Regions from separate parts of the Homo sapiens genome. Here region 1 is linked to region 2. Evidence: fine-mapped expression QTL. Tissue or cell type: whole blood. Region 2 holds a variant in brackets; the other region holds the start of a gene. All regions are shown on one strand. Distances are from middle to middle.

Region 1 (8,178 bases), 21 kb after region 2:
ATACGTTCAATCCTCACTTCTTTGTTGATAGACAAAGGTTTGCAGGACGTGGGGGATGTTACAGAAATGGAATAGCAATGAATTTGTCAAAGCCATTATGATATTCTTGTGAATAGATAAATTAAAAACATTTGGGGCCAGGCGCAGTGGCTCACGCCTGTAGTCCCAGCATTTGGGGAAGCCAAGGCGGGCAGATCACGAGGTCGGGAGATCAAGACCATCCTGGCTAACATGGTGAAACCCTGACTCTACTAAAAATACAAAAAACTAGCCAGGCGTGGTGGCAGGCACCTGTAGTCCCAGTTACTTGGGAGGCTGAGGCAGAAGAATGGCATGAACCTGGGAGGTGGAGCTTGCAATGAGCTAAGATCGTGCCACTGCACTCCAGCCTGGGCAACAGAACGAGACTCCGTCTCAAAAAAAAAAAAAATTAAAAACATTTGGAGGAGCAACCACACCTCCCTTGGGGACTGAATTTTAGGTGAGATTTACAAGCTCACTCTGAAAAAGATTACTGCTCAGAAAAATCAAATTGCTTTTCCACCAGCATTGCTTTTCCTCGAGAGCAAGAATTTCTATACATTTGGTTCACTGCTATATCCCAGTGCCTACAACTGTGGCTAGCACATAACAGGAATGCCAGAAAGAGTTGCTGTAAGAGTTAACTCAGCAGGCCTGTGTTTACCAAACCCTGCACATTCCCAAGAAAGTCCTATTTTCATGACTGGCAGTTGGCTGCCTCCTGAGAATTGAGCAATTAGAATATTCTGCCTGATCAGAGTGTTTTTGCATACCTGAGGTCTTGAGCCACTGCTGTACCAAGTTTTCCCAGACAGTTTATACTAGCAATGTGATTGATGGTGAATACCTGCTTTTCACTGGAGGTCTAGAACTTGAATAACTAAGGTCAGTCTGTAGGCCTACATGACTGATAAGGGCTATATGCTGAGTCTTGGGTCCTGTGAGTCCTTTTGGCAAATCTGCAGGCCTGAGGATAGTCAGGCATTCCTGCCACAGTCTAAAGAGCTATTCACCTAATACTACAATACCAGGGGGTTCACCACGTATATATAAGCTAACCAACTCATTACCTTTGTGTTCTTGTTATGATCTGGCGTCAATTTTCTTTTTTTATTGCTGTGAAATTCTACCACTTCTACTTGTTCCCTATTGTTCTTTAGGGAAGAGGGAGGAACTGCAGCAGCAAGGATCTCTGGTCCTGTGGGGGTCCCAGAAGGAGCACAATGCCGCTCTTCTCTAAGTTCCTTGAAGAAGCTCGAAGCGCTCTTCCTCTGGCCTCTTATGAGAGAACCAGGTAGGGGAGATGGCTCTGCTGCCAAGGCCGCTGAAGCCATCACATCTCTCTTCTTGTTTTCCCTTTTCTTTATGATCTTCTTCTGTTCTGTTTCACCTTCTGTACCTCCTGTTTGTTCAAACACAAGAAGGAAAATAAATATTTTCAGTCTTAGCTATCATCAGTATCAAATCCTACGAATGTATTTGTACATATTCCAGGGCTATATGCACCTAGAAGCACACACAAAGAAATAAACTATTTGTTTTCTTTCAAATAAGTGTATTTGCAAAATGCAGAGAATCCAAAATGTAGTCATCTTTTCCTAGGTAACTATGTCTTTGACCCTTATTAGCACAATCACTTTAGTCTCCACTTTGGTTCCTACTCAAAGTGTCATCACAGCAATAGTCCCCAGGGCTGGTAATCCCAATTGGCTTTATACTAAAAATATCAGGCACTGCAGCCACTGTTTCTTTTTAACACTTTCTGGGTTACAGGAACATGGAATAGTCTTCCTATTTTCTTTCACAGTTAGGAATTAAGATGAACCTAAGACAACTGGCTCAATTTGAATGCCTTTGTTTTCTATTAATTCCTCTTTCTATATTTCACTTGTTGAAGCTCTGACCAGTCACCTGAAAGTTCTAACCAGAATCCTAGGCATCCTTACTCACATGTATTACAAATACCACAGAGCTCTCTAAATTACCAGCTGCTGATTTATGCTTGCTACTATTTGCTTAATCTTTTATACAATAAACATTTAAGAGCCAACTAAACTTTGGCATTAAGGATATAAAAATGAATAGACACATTCAATGCCTTCAGAGCTCCTACCATGATTTCCAGCCTGTGTTGACATGAACTATATTATTTTGCAGAATAGTCTTTTCCTCTAGATTTTAAACTTCTCAAGGTCAGAGACTAAGTCTTCTCTGTCCTCCAATATGTCCAAGGGCACAGAAATGCTAGTTAATACAAGCATGGGGTCTGGGGCTAGAATCAGAACCCAGGCTCTGCAAAAATTACCAGTCAGACAACCTGCATCAGGTTTCATGAACTTCTAGTACTTGTTTCTACATCTGCAATCATGGATTTATGACAGTGTCTATTTCATGAAGTTGAAAATTAAATGAGCAAATACACGAAAAGCATGTGCTATATGGCAAGTTCTCAACAGTTTTAACTATTATTCCTACTGTTTAGGTGAACTTAGAATTTTGAGCAGTCATTCCAAAATAAAAATAGCTTTTAAAATATCACGCTGTAAATTTAAGAAATGTGTGTTGTCCTGAAATCTAATGATTTTCTTTGGTGCATGTGCAAAGGGTGTCACCTTCTCCCGGGAAAGCTCTTCAGAGTATGAGGCACTGTCTTCCTACTGACATGCCATGCGACTTTAATAGGCTCTTTTATTTTCCTTTTCCCCCATCAAGACAAAGAACGGAGAGTAAAAGATCAGCGCACTTGTTTAAAAAAAAAAAAGTCGTGAAAAGGACAACTCGCCAAGGACTATGATGTCTCTGGAGAGGGACACACAAGGATGAAGCTGGTGTATTATCCAACAGGCCCGAGGCCCCAGAGCGAAATGACACCATCGCACCAGGGTCAGGCAGGTCTTGGGGGTGGCATGGGGAAAGGGGACTTCCCAGGGCTCAAGAAAACGTGGAAAAGCGGGCTACTTTTAAATCGGAAAGCCTTGGTGCTTCCTACAAGCAAGTAGGATGGTCCCCACACTTGGGGACGAGTTGGAAGGTTTGATGAATAACTCAGCAGAGCCCGGTCGAGGGGTGACTTCCGATGGAGAAATGTGTTCGCTACTGGAACCAGGTGGGACGAAGGGTGCTTGACATGCAAGAACCTTTAGCCTCAAAGCAGAGGCCAACCCAGGACGGGCAACACAGGAGACCCACGTTCCTCAAATCTGTTCTCCACGTGGGCTCCTGGGACCCCGCACTCACCAAAGTCGTAAAGGTTCTGGAGCAGAGCGTCAAGAAGTGTCGGAGAACTGGGAGGCGTGGAGGACCCCGGCCCTTGCTCCTGCGACATTGTGGGGTCAGCCGAGGAATCAACCCTCATTCTGCCGCGCTGCACCCCCGCTTCCGGGTTCCGCGACTGCGCGCATGCGCTGCAGGGCCCTGCGCGGCTTCCGTCCTGGCTGAGATGGCGGCGCCCGGGATCCTGTGTAGCGGCTGCAGAGGGTGCCGCCGCCCTAGGCGAAGTAGGGCCGTCCTGAGCGAAAGAACCGCCCCCAGCAGGAGCACCACCACGGCTTAGCAAAGAATCCCAGACCCCGCCCGGGAAGGCAGCCGCACCATGGAGTCTTCCAGTTCATCTAACTCTTATTTCTCCGTTGGCCCAACCAGTCCCAGCGCTGTCGTGCTCCTCTACTCGGTAGGCGCCCAGGGAAAAGAGGCCCAGAGCGGAGCCGCGCGAAATAGTACCCCTTTCTCCCAGTCCCTATTCCTCCGGCCCACCACCCTTGCCCAAAAGAGCTGGCCCCTAGGCTCCCGAGGAGGGGTTAGTTGGTTGGATTGGTTTCCAGGACAACAGTGTATCGCTGTGTGTCTGTGTGTGCATGCTTTTGGAAGTTTCTACGGATTATGGTTCCTTTGGTTCCTTTCCACTTTTTCCTTCTCTTTCTTTCTATCAGGCCCTGGGGCCTTCAGAAAGCTCCTGGACACGAGAATGAGGAATGAGAATTGGAGTCTCCCCATCTCTAGCGAGGGCATGTCGAGCTACCTTTTGGGCAAACCTGAGAAACTTGCGGGTTTGACCCGCCCTGAGATAGCCTGTGGCTCCGCACCCCGCCCTATGCTGCTGTTATATTCCTGGGAGTAGAGCACTTGGCTTGTATGTGGGAATAGAGTTTTAAACACTTCAGGAAAATTTAGAACTTCTAGACATTTTTATTGCCTGTTCTTGTCTTCCAGTCATTATTGTACCTTTTCCACAAATCATTTTGGAGGACAGCCAGCGCCACCCAGCTTCTCTCCCGCTTGTCTTTTTTTCCTCCAACCCCCTCTTCCTCTCTTGGTTTTAACGGGTCTTTTTGGCTGGCAGATGTTGGTCACCCACGATTTTCATGAAGAAATTATGAGATGGGAGCTTTATAGCCTTCAGGATTGCACAGACCTGGGGCAACTGGTTTGGTTTTTGTTTGTTTCTTGTTGTTTTTAACCACTAAATTAGTTTTTAGCTACTTTAGGAGAAAATGAAAGAATTCATTTTAAAAGCATATTAGCATATCCTGGTGATTACTGTCCAATTTTGGCTTAAATGTAGTGTTCATTTGTGCAGAAAGGTCAAAACAGGGATAACACAGCAGAGCAAGATAAACACCCCAGTTTTGAAAGAGAATATATGGGTTCCTTCAAATTGAGACACCAATATTCTTTGGAACATGGAGAAACTTCTGTTCCCTCTCTATCAAGACCTTTCGGTTTCTGATTGCTAACTGCCTATAAGCCTTATTATTTAGATATATCTCTTCATTGATCTTATCTTCCCCACAGTTCTGTGGTGGATATCAACTTTGTTTTCTGACTCTGCTACTCCAGAGCAGGCACGAAGGGAAGAGGGTTGCTGTGCAGATCCAGCTTTTAACATGTAGCTTTTTAAGCTCCCAACTGGTTTGTGAATTGGTTGGAATTTTCCTTTTGTACATTAAAGGAAGGAGTTGGTTTTGTTTGTTTGTTTGTTTGTTTTACTTCCCCTTTACCAACGGTTCTTTAATAAGACTTGAGTCCACTTTTTCATGTGAAAAACTATGGCAGTTGTATCTGAGCATTCTGTAGTTCTGATGCTGGACAGCAACCCACTCTTTACTGGTAGTTCTCACTACTGTTTTGTGACTGGATAACCTTTACTTCCACGGTAACCTTACTTTTTCTTAGTACTTCAGGCTGTTTTTATTTCCCCAGCTACGCTGTTATTGTGTAATATTCTGATCTAAAAGTAGCACTTTAGAAGCGTAGAAGATACTGCTGATTGCAGCAAACATTAGGAATATATACAGTATCCTACTCATTATTCTCAGTTTCCAAGATATAGAAGTTACAGATGCAGGCTCTGCCTTTAAGGGCACAAAAAGTCATAAAAGTAAACAAACAATCACAGTTAAGTATGGTAAGGGCAATGATTGAAGCATGCACAGCGTGTTGTGGGAGAGACAAGAAGGGGCACCTGACCAGTTTGGGAACTTGGAGAAGGTTTCTAAGAAAAGGTGATATCTAAGCTGATCTTCCTTTTTTGTTTTTGTTTTTGTTTTTGTTTTGTTTTGGAGACAGCCTTGCTCTGTTGCCAGGCTGGAGAACAGTGGCTCGATCTTGGTTCACTGCAACCTCCATCTCCGGGGCTCAAGCGATTCTCCTGCCTCAGCCTCCCGAGTAGCTGGGATTTTAGGCACACGCCACCCCGCCCTGCTAATGTTTGTATTTTTAGTAAAGACAAGGTCTCACCGTGTTGGCCAGGCCGGTCTTGAACTCCTGACCTCAAGTGATCTACTCACCTCCCAAAGTGCTGGAATTACAGGCATGAGCCACTGTGCCTGGCATGAGCTGAGTTTTTGAGCTGTGAATGGCAGATGAGGGAGAGGAAAACTGTCCTAGATGTTGATGTAAAAAAAACTACTCCCTTGCATATTTGGGGTTAGAATTAGTTAGATTTGGGTGGAAGAAAGGAGACATGAGAAACAAAGTAAGGAAGTAGGCAGATATTTCCTAAAGAAATTTTATGTGTCGTGTTTACATATCCTTAGGGATAAAATCTTAACTTTATGGGAGATTTTAATCTTACATCTATGTGTGTGTGTGTGTATACACATATATATATAAATATATGTGTGTATATGTATTTTTTTTTTGACATGGTGTCTCACTCTGTCACCCAGGCTGGAGTGTAATGGCACAATCTTGGCTCACTGCAACCTCCACCTCCAGGGTTCAAGAGATTCTCCTGTCTCAGCATCCCAAGTAGCTGGGATTACAGTTGCCTGCCACCACACCCGGCTAATTTTTGTATTTTTAGTAGAGTCGGGGTTTCACCATGTCGGCCAGGCTGGTGTCGAACTCCCGGTCTCAAGTGATCCACCTGCCTTGGCCTTCCAAAGTACATTTATATTTTTGAAAGTCTGAGAAGACTATAGGTTTCTGGTGTGATTATCTGTATAGGTAACCTGTTTTGCCTAAGTAGAGACTGTAGGAAGAGAATCAGGTTGGGTAGGGAATCTGATGCATAAAAGTGGAGATCAGTTAGAATGCTATTGCAGTAATCCAGAGAAGTAATGAAGCAGTAACAGTGAGCCCAGGAAGAAGGGAAATTGATGAATTTATGTGATATTTAGGACAGTAAATCATCATCCTTTGGAACCATTTGAATGTGGTGGCTAAGGAAAATAGCATAGTCTGAAGTTCACTGTTGGGTTTCTATGATTTGGCAACTGGGCAGATGATGATGCCTTTCATTGATAAGAAATATGGGGAGAGGAGCAGGTTTGGTCAGGGTAATAGAATTCAGTTTGGGGTGTGTTCAGTTTGTGATGTAAGAGAGAAATATAATGATTTTTAACTTGTGGATTATCATGTTATGAGCCAGATACATTCCATAGTGTTTGGAAGAGATCCAAGTAGGGTTAGAAATATGGTGCCAGAGCAAGAGAGGGGGTCTGGCCTAAATGTATAGATTTTTCAGCATGTAGGTTGTATCTATAGCATTCGGTGAGCCTGAAATCATTCAGTGAGACCCTAGAATGAAAAGAAGACTGAGGATGGGTAACCACTGGTGTGCCATAATCCAGATGATGACTTCCTGTTAAAGTCCAAGTGAAAGATGCAGATGCCTTACTACAGTGTCCCACAAGACTGTACATGATCTCTTAACTGCTATTGCTCTGACTTTACTAATCTTCTTGTTCACTGGGCTTTAGCCACCCTGGCCTTCTGTTTCTCAGACAGTAAAATGCTCTTCCCTCGAATGCTCATAGTCCCTTCTGTGTGGCATGCTATGTTTTCTCAGAAGTTTTATTGCTGGCTCTTTGTATTATTGAGGTCCCAACTCAAATATCACTTCCTCAGAGAGGCCTTCCACAACCATTGAATCTAAAACAGCTATCCAATCACTATTCCTCATTTTCCTCATTAGTTGCCTAATTTTCTTTTTTTGTTGTTGTTAATTTTTGGCTTTTTAATTAATTATTTTTAGAGCCAGGATCTTGCTCTGTCACCTAGAGTGGAGTGCAGTGGCATAGTCATAGCTCACTGTGACCTCCAACTCTTGAGCTCAAGTGATCCTCCCTCCTCAGCCTCCCAGTAGCTAGGACTGTAGGCGCATACCACCACGCCTGACTGGTTTTTTTTTTTATTTTGTGTAGAGACAGGGCCTCACTATGTTGCCAACCTGGTCTCAAACTTCTGGTCTCAAACGATTGATCCTCTTGCCTTGGCCTCCCAGATCACTGGGATTACAGAGTGAGCCACCATGCCCTGACCGCAGCTTTATTTTCCTTATATTCTCTTTCCAGTGGTGTGCTACAGCAGTCTTCTATTGGCTTGCAAGAGCTGATTGTTAAATTTTCATGAAGTTTGTGAGCCCATTCTTAAAACACAGCCATTATTAAAAATTAAATAGCCGGGCGCTGTGGCTTACGCCTGTAATCCCAGCACTTTGGGAGGCCAAAGCAGGCGGATCACCTGAGGTCGGGAGCTCGCGACCAGCCTGACCAACATCGAGAAACCCCGTCTCTACTAAAAACACAAAATTAGCTGGGCATGGTGGCACATGCCTGTAATCCCAGCTACTCGGGAGGCTGAGGCAGGAGAATCGCTTGAACCCGGGAGGTGGAAGTTGCAGTGAGCCGAGATTGCGCCATTGCACTCCAGCCT
Region 2 (8,178 bases):
CTGAGAAGTGACTTGTCAATTTGCTGGACTGGATTTTTATAAAATTCGCCCATTCACCAGCACCAACTGTGCGTCCTTGGTTCTGCCTTCCTGTTCAGACACCGCGCCTGCTTTCTGAGTAACTGCCTGCCGGAGCCATGCAGGTACCCCCCCTCCACTCAGCAGGCCCGACAATCCTACCTCAAAGCTCATGCTCTTGGTCTGCAAGGCTGCTTGGTCCGCTGTCTCTGCAGATGTGGCCGGCAAGGCCAGCTGCCCCGTCTCCAGGAGCTGCTCGGTGCTGTGTTGCAGTCTCTGCTGCGGAGCCTGGGAGCTATCTGCTTCATGGAAGTCTAGGTCTTGCCTCTTCCTTGTCATCTCACCAAGCGGTTTCTGGGTCTCCTCCTCCCATCCCAGAGCCCTGTCCAGAGCTCTTGGTGGTGACACACAAGACCTGGGACCCTGTGTCCTTGCCCGCACCTCTGCCTCTGTCTCCCATATCCCTGCAGCTTCATCCTTAGCCATAGCTCTGGGTGGCCTTTGCTTGGAGCATGGAGACGATCCCTAAAGATTGAGGATGAAGAGGAGCCACCACTTTCCTGGGGCCAAGGAAGCCATCAGCTTTGGGAAGTGTCTAGCTCTCTTCTGAAAAAAAAACAGGCCTACACCCTGCCCCCAGAATGAGAGTGGGCTAGGCAGGGCTGCCTGGTGACAGCAGCTTCTCACAGGGGAGCCCTGGGGAAGGCTGTGGAGCCTCCACCATCACCACAGCCCAGGTCACCAGGTGGCCCCAGCTCTGCAGAAGAATCGCCCATCATTGGAGCACAAGTTGCCTGGGGCTACCCTGAACCTAACCCCTTTGAGGGAGCAGCATCCAGGTCAGGAGAGAAGTGGAAAGTGCAGGAGGGTAATGCCCTCAAATCCGGTGGCCTCTTTCAGAAAAAAGTTCCCTGAAGTCCAGAGAGGTGCAGCCAGGACTCCCTCCTCCCCACTGCCACCCTGAGCTTGGGGGCTGGGATTCTCCCTTTTCTGACTCCTCCAGGAGCCCAGAAGCAATACGGCCGATGCCAGGGACAGCATCCAGCTCTCCTTCACAGACACCTCTCCTGTCTTCAGCACAAAACACCTTCAATGTTCTGACTTCAAAGAGAACGACAGGTCCGTGCCACACACTTGTGTTTTTGAGGGATCAGAAAAGTGAAGAAGGAACTTATCAATTCCTCATGGCCAGGAAGGTCCCGGGTTTCAGAGTAGAAATGACAGACAGGTCATGGAATTCTCATCCACCATCGAATTCCATAACACGTTACATCATGGTGGCACATTTGTACATACATATAAATGATATCAAGATGAGGCTTTTGTTGGGCTGGCTGAGGAGTAACTTGGTGTAAATCTATCAAGCAGTTTCAGTGAAAAAGGAATTCAAAGTAGTTTAAAAATGTCGAGTTCCATTGCATTGTAAATAGTGCCTCTGTAATGTGGTTCTGCAGTTGTTCTTTGCTAGTGAGCAAGCTTGGTCAAAGTGTATGCCTTTTCCTTTTAAAATTAATCTCTTCCGAAAATATCCACTAGCACCTCACTGCATACATAGCATCCCAGCTCCTAATTCAAAGCAGGGGAAGGTATTTCCCCAAAGCCTGCTTTTCCTCTCTCTGTTCTCCTTGGGAAAATAATGATTCCAATTAAAGAGGACACCAGTAATACTGACCCACAAGGTAACTGACCTAAACACTATAAAACTGTATATATTTCCAGGCTGCATCTTCAGCCTGATATGTACTTTGTAGTTGCAACAGCGCCCTAGGTGCCCTATGGCCCACCAAGTTTGAGGAGGGTGGTGCTTTCCGGATTGAGCCTGGGCAGGCTCTGTGGAGCTCACCAAGAGAGCTGGGGGCAGGCCCACCCTCCTCTTTGCGCCCTTTCTCTCCCTCTTGGTGCCCCTGCCCTCCGCCCCACCACAGCACTCTCAGGAAAGGATCAGAATGCAGGATCTTTGTGTATTTCTTCCAGGGATATTTGCATTTAAGCCTTAATTCTCATTGCAAGCGAAAGGCTTGGTCCCCCTGGGAAGGCGGGTTTCGGCACCGGTGGGCAGGTGGTTCAGTGTCAAGGAGGCTGCTGCTGGTCCCATGGCCACCTGCTGGCTTTGAGGTAGTGAGGGAGGGTCAATCCTTAGGGGGAGTCAACATGTGAATGCTAAAGAACACTGCTGCACAGCCCGTGGGGTGGCGCCAGGGTTTCTCAACCTCTACTGACATTTTGCGATAGGTTCTGTATGCCGTAGGATGTTTAGCAACATCCCTGGTCTCTACCCATCATCTGCCAGTAGCAACCCCCAAGTTAGGTGTGACAACCAAAAGTATCTGTCGACATTGCTAGGTATCTCCTGGGGGCCTCCACAAGTTGAGAACCACCAGGTTATGCCAGTGGTTTGTCATGCATGGATCTGTAGAGGGACTGTGGCGCTCCGGCTGCTTTGTTCCATAGAAAGCCTGTATGTGACAAAGCTGCCAGCCTTTATCTTGATACCCAAGCCCAGGATTTTCCATGTGTCTTCAGGGGGCAGGTAGGGGAAAATGGGGTGAGCCACCTCCAACAGATGCCAACCTGTTGGGTCTTGAATTTTCACTCACTGAAGATGCCCCCTGCCCGCTCCCCACTTCCTAGAAAGCAAAACTCGTTACCTTTGTTTTCCTTGGCCACATTTTACTGGAAGCAACAGGAACTTCTTAATGGGTTTGTGGCCCTCAATTGGTTTTTAAAAAAATCTAACAGATCTTATTGGCAAATATTCAAGATGGTGATGCTGGAAAATTTCAGGACTTTTCTTTTGCAAGTGAGCCGGTAGCTGTGTTTGTTGACCACATTCTTTGGCAGTTCCTCCCAGAAGATCAAAGGATCCTGCAGCTTTAACCTAATATCTAGGCTGTAAAAATATGAGGGCAGGTTTCGGGCAGGATGTATTGATCAGACACCAAGTTCAGCCCTCGGTTACTTCCCTCTTTTAACCTGGCTTTAATAGTGATTCATGGTATGAGTGGGGGCCAATCTCTTATCCTTTCTGTGCCTCAGTATCCCCACCTGAAATGAGACTAGTCATACTAACCTACCTCCTCTGATGTATTGTGAGGATTATACAATAACATTTTTAAAGAAAAAAAGTGCAGTCTTTCATCTCTGGCATCTAAGCTAATGATTCCCATTCAGTGACTCAAACCTGT[G/T]GGGGGCGTTCCAGTGTTCTCTGACCAGTGTCTTCCATCCAAGCCTCCTTGTGACCAGGGCAAGGAGCTGCCTGGCCTCCAGTGGGTAAAATAGACCTTTAAGACAGGTTTCCTATGACCATAGAAAGTAACACCCCATATGTTTCCATTCCCGGCGAGGCCTGTTTGAATGGCGCTCTGTGTGAGTGCTATGAACAGGCTACCTGTCAGCAGTCTCACTGCGAGGCCTCAAGGCCTCTGTGAGCAGAAGCCCCTTTAAACCAAGGAAGGACACTAACCCAGGCCTCTGCCTTCTTTGTTACCTAAGTTCTGGTATCTAAGGGGTCTCTCATCTCACAGCTTGCCTCCTTTGTTTCGAGGGGTCTCTGCAGTGTGAATGGGTTTGAAATCCAGTGTGGATAGCACGAAGAGATGCAACTGAGCCGAAGTTTTGAAGGCTGGTTGGGCTAGTGGGTCATCATGTCACTTTCAGATGACTGATAACCGCTGGGACTGCTGGGGCTTCACCAGCACGAGCTATGCAGGTTGGGGGAGGCCCTGGCTTTTTCAATGATTGACGTTGACATCAGTCAGGAGCTGGGAGTTGAGACCTCCAGGGAAGTCTCGTCCGGATCCATCGCTCTTCTCTCAAGGAGCACAGTCCTGGGAAAGGCCTAGGGACCTGTGGGCCGGTGATGCGGGCACTGCAGACCAGGCCAGGCCCTCGGGTAAAGCTCTGAGGAGAGGCCAAAACCAGGCTTCAGGTTCGGGAAGGTGACTGCTTGCAACTGCAGTAGCAGGAACATGTCAGGTGCTTACTGGGTGAGACCCAGCCGGGGAAGCCTCTCCAACTCCTCCTAGCCCTGGAAACCAGACACCCAGAGCCCCAGGCTTTCTCGGCACCCAGAAGAAGTGGGGAGCGGGCAAAGCAGAAAACATTCAATGCATGATGTAGGATTGCTGCGTTGGCACTAAGCTGTTGTATTAAGCATGAGAGGTGTTTGTTTAACGTTGGCAAAGGGATTTAACAAGAAACAAAAAGCTTCGCGTCCTTGTTTTGACCGTCGACAGAAGTCCAATTTTCTTGCCTTTCTTTATCCCCATTTCTCCTCCCTCCCCTTCCCCCATCACATCCACTTTCGGTCACTCGTTGTTGGTATTTGGTGGCAGCTCTTGGTCCTATTGCTGTGGATGTTCCACTGAAAACACGGGGGGTAGCGGGGAGTGGTAAGGAAAGCAACTTTTTTCTAATTTTTGTATTGGTATCCACAAGCGTTTGTATTTTTTGAATTGCAAACACTGTGTTTTCTGGTCTTTGGGGGTTAGTTGAACTTTCTGTATTACCTTTTGGAAAACCTGAGTTTTACCACAGTCTTAAGCAGATTTGAAATAAATTCTTTTGACACTGCCAACAACAGAAAGACAAGATGTGGTCTGTAATTCCTGCTCCGTGGTCAGGTCTGCCTTTTTCCCAACTGGCCCTGACTGCCCAGCAGACAGGGCAGAGGCTACAGGAGGGGAGGCCACACGGTCTCTTCCCCCAGTGGGGCTGGGCGTTACTAAGTAGCAGGGTCAATGTGGTTCTGCTTCGCGTGCCCAGGAAATCTCAGGGTGATTACATATGACTCTAAACTAGGCTGGGTGCTGTGGCTCACACCTGTAATCCCAGAACTTTGGGAGGCCAAGGCAGGCAGATCACTTGAGGCCAGGAGTTTGAGACCAGCCTGGGCAACATGGTGAAACTCCGTCTCTACCAAAAATACAAAAATTAGCCAGCCGTGGTGGTGCACCTGTAGTCCCAGCTACTCAGGAGGCTGAGGAGGGAGGATCGCTGGCGCCCTGGAGGTCAAGGCTGCAGTGAGCCATGATTGTGCCACTGCATTCCAGCCTGCGTGACAGAGCAAGACCCTGTGTTAAAAATTAAAAAAATAGCCACGCAGGGTGGCTCACACCTGTAATCTCAGCACTTTGGGAGGCTGAGGCGGGTAGATCACCTGAGGTCAGGAGTTCGAGACCAGCCTGGCCAACATGGTGAAACCCCGTCTCTACTAAAACAATACAAAAATTAGCCGGGTGTGGGGGCGCATGCCTGTAATCCCAGCTACTTGGGAGCTGAGGCAGGAGAATTGCTTGAACCCAAGAGGCGGAGGTTGCAGTGAGCCGAAATCGTGCCATTGCACTCCAGCCTGGGCAACAAGAGCTAAACTCCCTCTCAAAAAATATAAAAATAAAAAATAAAATAAAATAAAATAAAATAAAAAATAAAACGGAAGGCCCGACCACAAACAGCAGGAAGGTCATAAAATTCATTTTTACAAGAGGGAATAGGGCTGGAGATACCTAACAGTTACCATGTGGTTAAGGTCGATCCATGAGTGCAGAGTAGATCATGGGTTCCACGTAGAGATCTGCGGAAAACATCCCAATGAACCCATGAGCATCAAGGAGACTCACCTGCCCCTTGAGCTACACAGACCAAGGCCAGACATGCCTGACCTGAACTCTGTCCTTTGCTGCTTTCTCACCTCATGATCCTCAAGAGCAGCTGTCTCACATGGCCCCCGACAGCCCCTAACACCAGTGACCTATGGGATTACCGAATGGGCTCAGCTGAGTAGGAGGCAGATGCAGAGATTAGACAGCAAATGTTTCTTAGGGCGAGCTCTTGGGATCAAAATTCATGGAGGCCCAGGGAAGGAAGCAGGATTGGATGGAGGGAGATATGGAGCTGCGCAGAACCAATAAAGGCCTCAGCCTGCCACCACACCCGGCTAATTTTTTGTATTTTTAGTAGAGACAGGGTTTCACCGTGTTAGCCAGGATGGTCTCGATCTCCTGACCTCGTGATCCGCCCGCCTTGGCCTCCCAAAGTGCTGGGATTACAGGCGTGAGCCACCGCACCCGGCCTACAAAACATCTTTTAAATTAGCTGGGCGTGGTGGCACATGCCTTTAGTCCCAACTACTCTGGAGGCTGAGGCAAGAGAATCACTTGAGCCCAAGAGTTCGAGGCCACATTGAGTTATGATCGTGCTGGGGCACTACAGCCTGGGTGACAGATCAAGGCCTTGTCTCTAAAAAACTGAAAAAACAGGCCGAGCGTGGTGGCTCATGTCTGTAATCCCAGCACTTTGGGAGGCTGAGGCAGGCAGATTGCCTGAGCTCAGGAGTTCAAGACCAGCCTGGGCAACATGGTGAAACCCTGTCTCTACTAAAATACAAAAAATTGGCTGGGCGTGGCAGCGTGCGCCTGTTGTCCCAGCTACTCGGGAGGCTGAGGCAGGAGAATTGCTTGAACCCAGGAGGTGGAGGTTGCAGTGAGCTGAGATCGTGCCATTGCACTCCATCCTGGGTGACAGAGTGAGACTCCGTCTCACAAAAAAAAAAAAATTGAAAAAACAGAAATTTTTAAAAGCCCAAATTGTCACCATCATCGAAGACCTTTTTAAATGTGCTACAAGCTTTGAGAAGTTGCTGTCACTTTAAGCAAGGGCAATATCATTAAAAACATGTATATGGCTGCAAAGGTGATGACAACTCTGATAGAAATAACATTCACTTGAATGTGGGCACAAAAGTATGAGTTAAAACCATCTGTTACTTAACAGTCACAGGCACATATACTACAAACCTATTTTATTTATATAACTTCTTATGAAGTAGATTTTGTACACATGGTAGGCTAAAAATTAAAACTGCTTTTCCACAAAACTGATAAATTACTAGATTCTTGGTTCTTTCATGATATCATAACATTAAATCATTAAAAATATAAGGCAATTTAATGTAAACTACTAGCATTTACAAAACAGTAAAGTTATAAAAAACTGTATTACAAGCAAATGCACCAAATACCAGTGAACATGAAACAGGAGTGAAGTTTGCTGGAGAACATTAAAAATCACTTTTCAGTGGGTTCACTTCACATTCATGCTGCACTGGGCCTGACACGTTCAGCACCATGAAGCAGACACTTCGGCAACTAGAAATGTTACTTCTGTTTGACTTTTTTTCTAAAATGAAAAAGCAGTCTGTGAAATGCGTGTTAAGAACGATCTATCTAGAGTCGCACAGGGTCCAGGGCCGCTGCAGTTGACTCAGTTGTTCCCATCCTCGTTTTATTTGACAAAGTACTTCATTTGGCCACTCTGGAAGAATTTATTTTCTTGATATCAACTGGGCTCAGAATCAGTGTTCCATTTTTGAATTTTCCAACCTGTCCAATCCGTCCATTTGACAAAATACTGGGAGCGGACTTCTTTTTGGATTTCCTACATTTAAAGTAAGAGAAAGGTACTATAAATAGTCAAGCTTACCAACAAGCATCACAGTACCACCAACCAGGCCACTGCAGTCTGGCCTGCAAACTCCTGGTCGCCTGCCATGCACACCCCCCACCCCATACGCCTTCCTGTGGTCCCTGAAACATGCTACTGCCTTCCTGCCTCAGGGCCCTTGCACTGGTTTCTTCTGCAAGGAATGTTCTGCTACCAGCTCTTTCCAGGCTGCCCCTCTTCTTTGTTCAGTTCTCAGCTCCGATGTCACCTCCTCAGACTAATTTCCCAGCTCACCTTCTCCCTGTGGTTTTCCTTCACAATGCTCTCTTTCAGCCTCTCTACAATACTTGCCAGTACCTGATATCATCTTACTTATCCATTTGTATGTTTTGGGGTGTTTCTCTCCCTACAATGAAGCTCCTCAAGGGCAGGGATATCTTTAGTGTGATTACAGCTGTACACCAATACCTAAGACACCCACATGCCTGGCACAAAGAGGCATTCAACAGATACAGATCGGTGGCCAGAACAAATGACCATTTTACAGCATGTACAAGTGCACTAGGAGCCCAAGAAAACAGGCTAAGACAAAAAGAGTCCATTCTGAAACAGTAACTCAAAGACAGAGAAAAAGGCATTTGAACAAAAGCTAACAAACAAGTATAAAGCAACAAAGTCAACATCCCTTATTCATAATTACGGTGCTCTATCTTACGTGGT

The links. PIP is the estimated chance that this variant, and not a neighbour inherited with it, causes the effect.
Region 1: it holds the start of FSAF1, and the variant in region 2 is fine-mapped to the expression of FSAF1 in whole blood (INTERVAL, PIP above 0.99).

Annotation. Positions count from the first base shown.
Region 1 is chr1:231,237,766-231,245,943 of GRCh38, forward strand. FSAF1 (40S small subunit processome assembly factor 1) reads right to left here and starts at 3,410. Exons shown (of 7, transcript NM_152379.4): 1 at 3,259-3,410; 2 at 1,092-1,423. The coding sequence starts at 3,376. It overlaps GNPAT (glyceronephosphate O-acyltransferase), which reads left to right and starts at 3,447. Exons shown (of 16, transcript NM_014236.4): 1 at 3,447-3,691. The coding sequence starts at 3,614. RefSeq lists enhancers at 3,140-3,479, 3,460-4,349.
Region 2 is chr1:231,216,963-231,225,140 of GRCh38, forward strand. TRIM67 (tripartite motif containing 67) reads left to right here. Exons shown (of 10, transcript NM_001004342.5): 10 at 1-4,603. FSAF1 (40S small subunit processome assembly factor 1) reads right to left here. Exons shown (of 7, transcript NM_152379.4): 7 at 6,803-7,452. The coding sequence ends at 7,317. Among named protein-coding and RNA genes, the nearest start is that of FSAF1, 20 kb to the right of the region's middle. RefSeq lists enhancers at 215-714, 3,865-4,365. The variant G/T (reference allele first, on the strand shown) is at 3,204.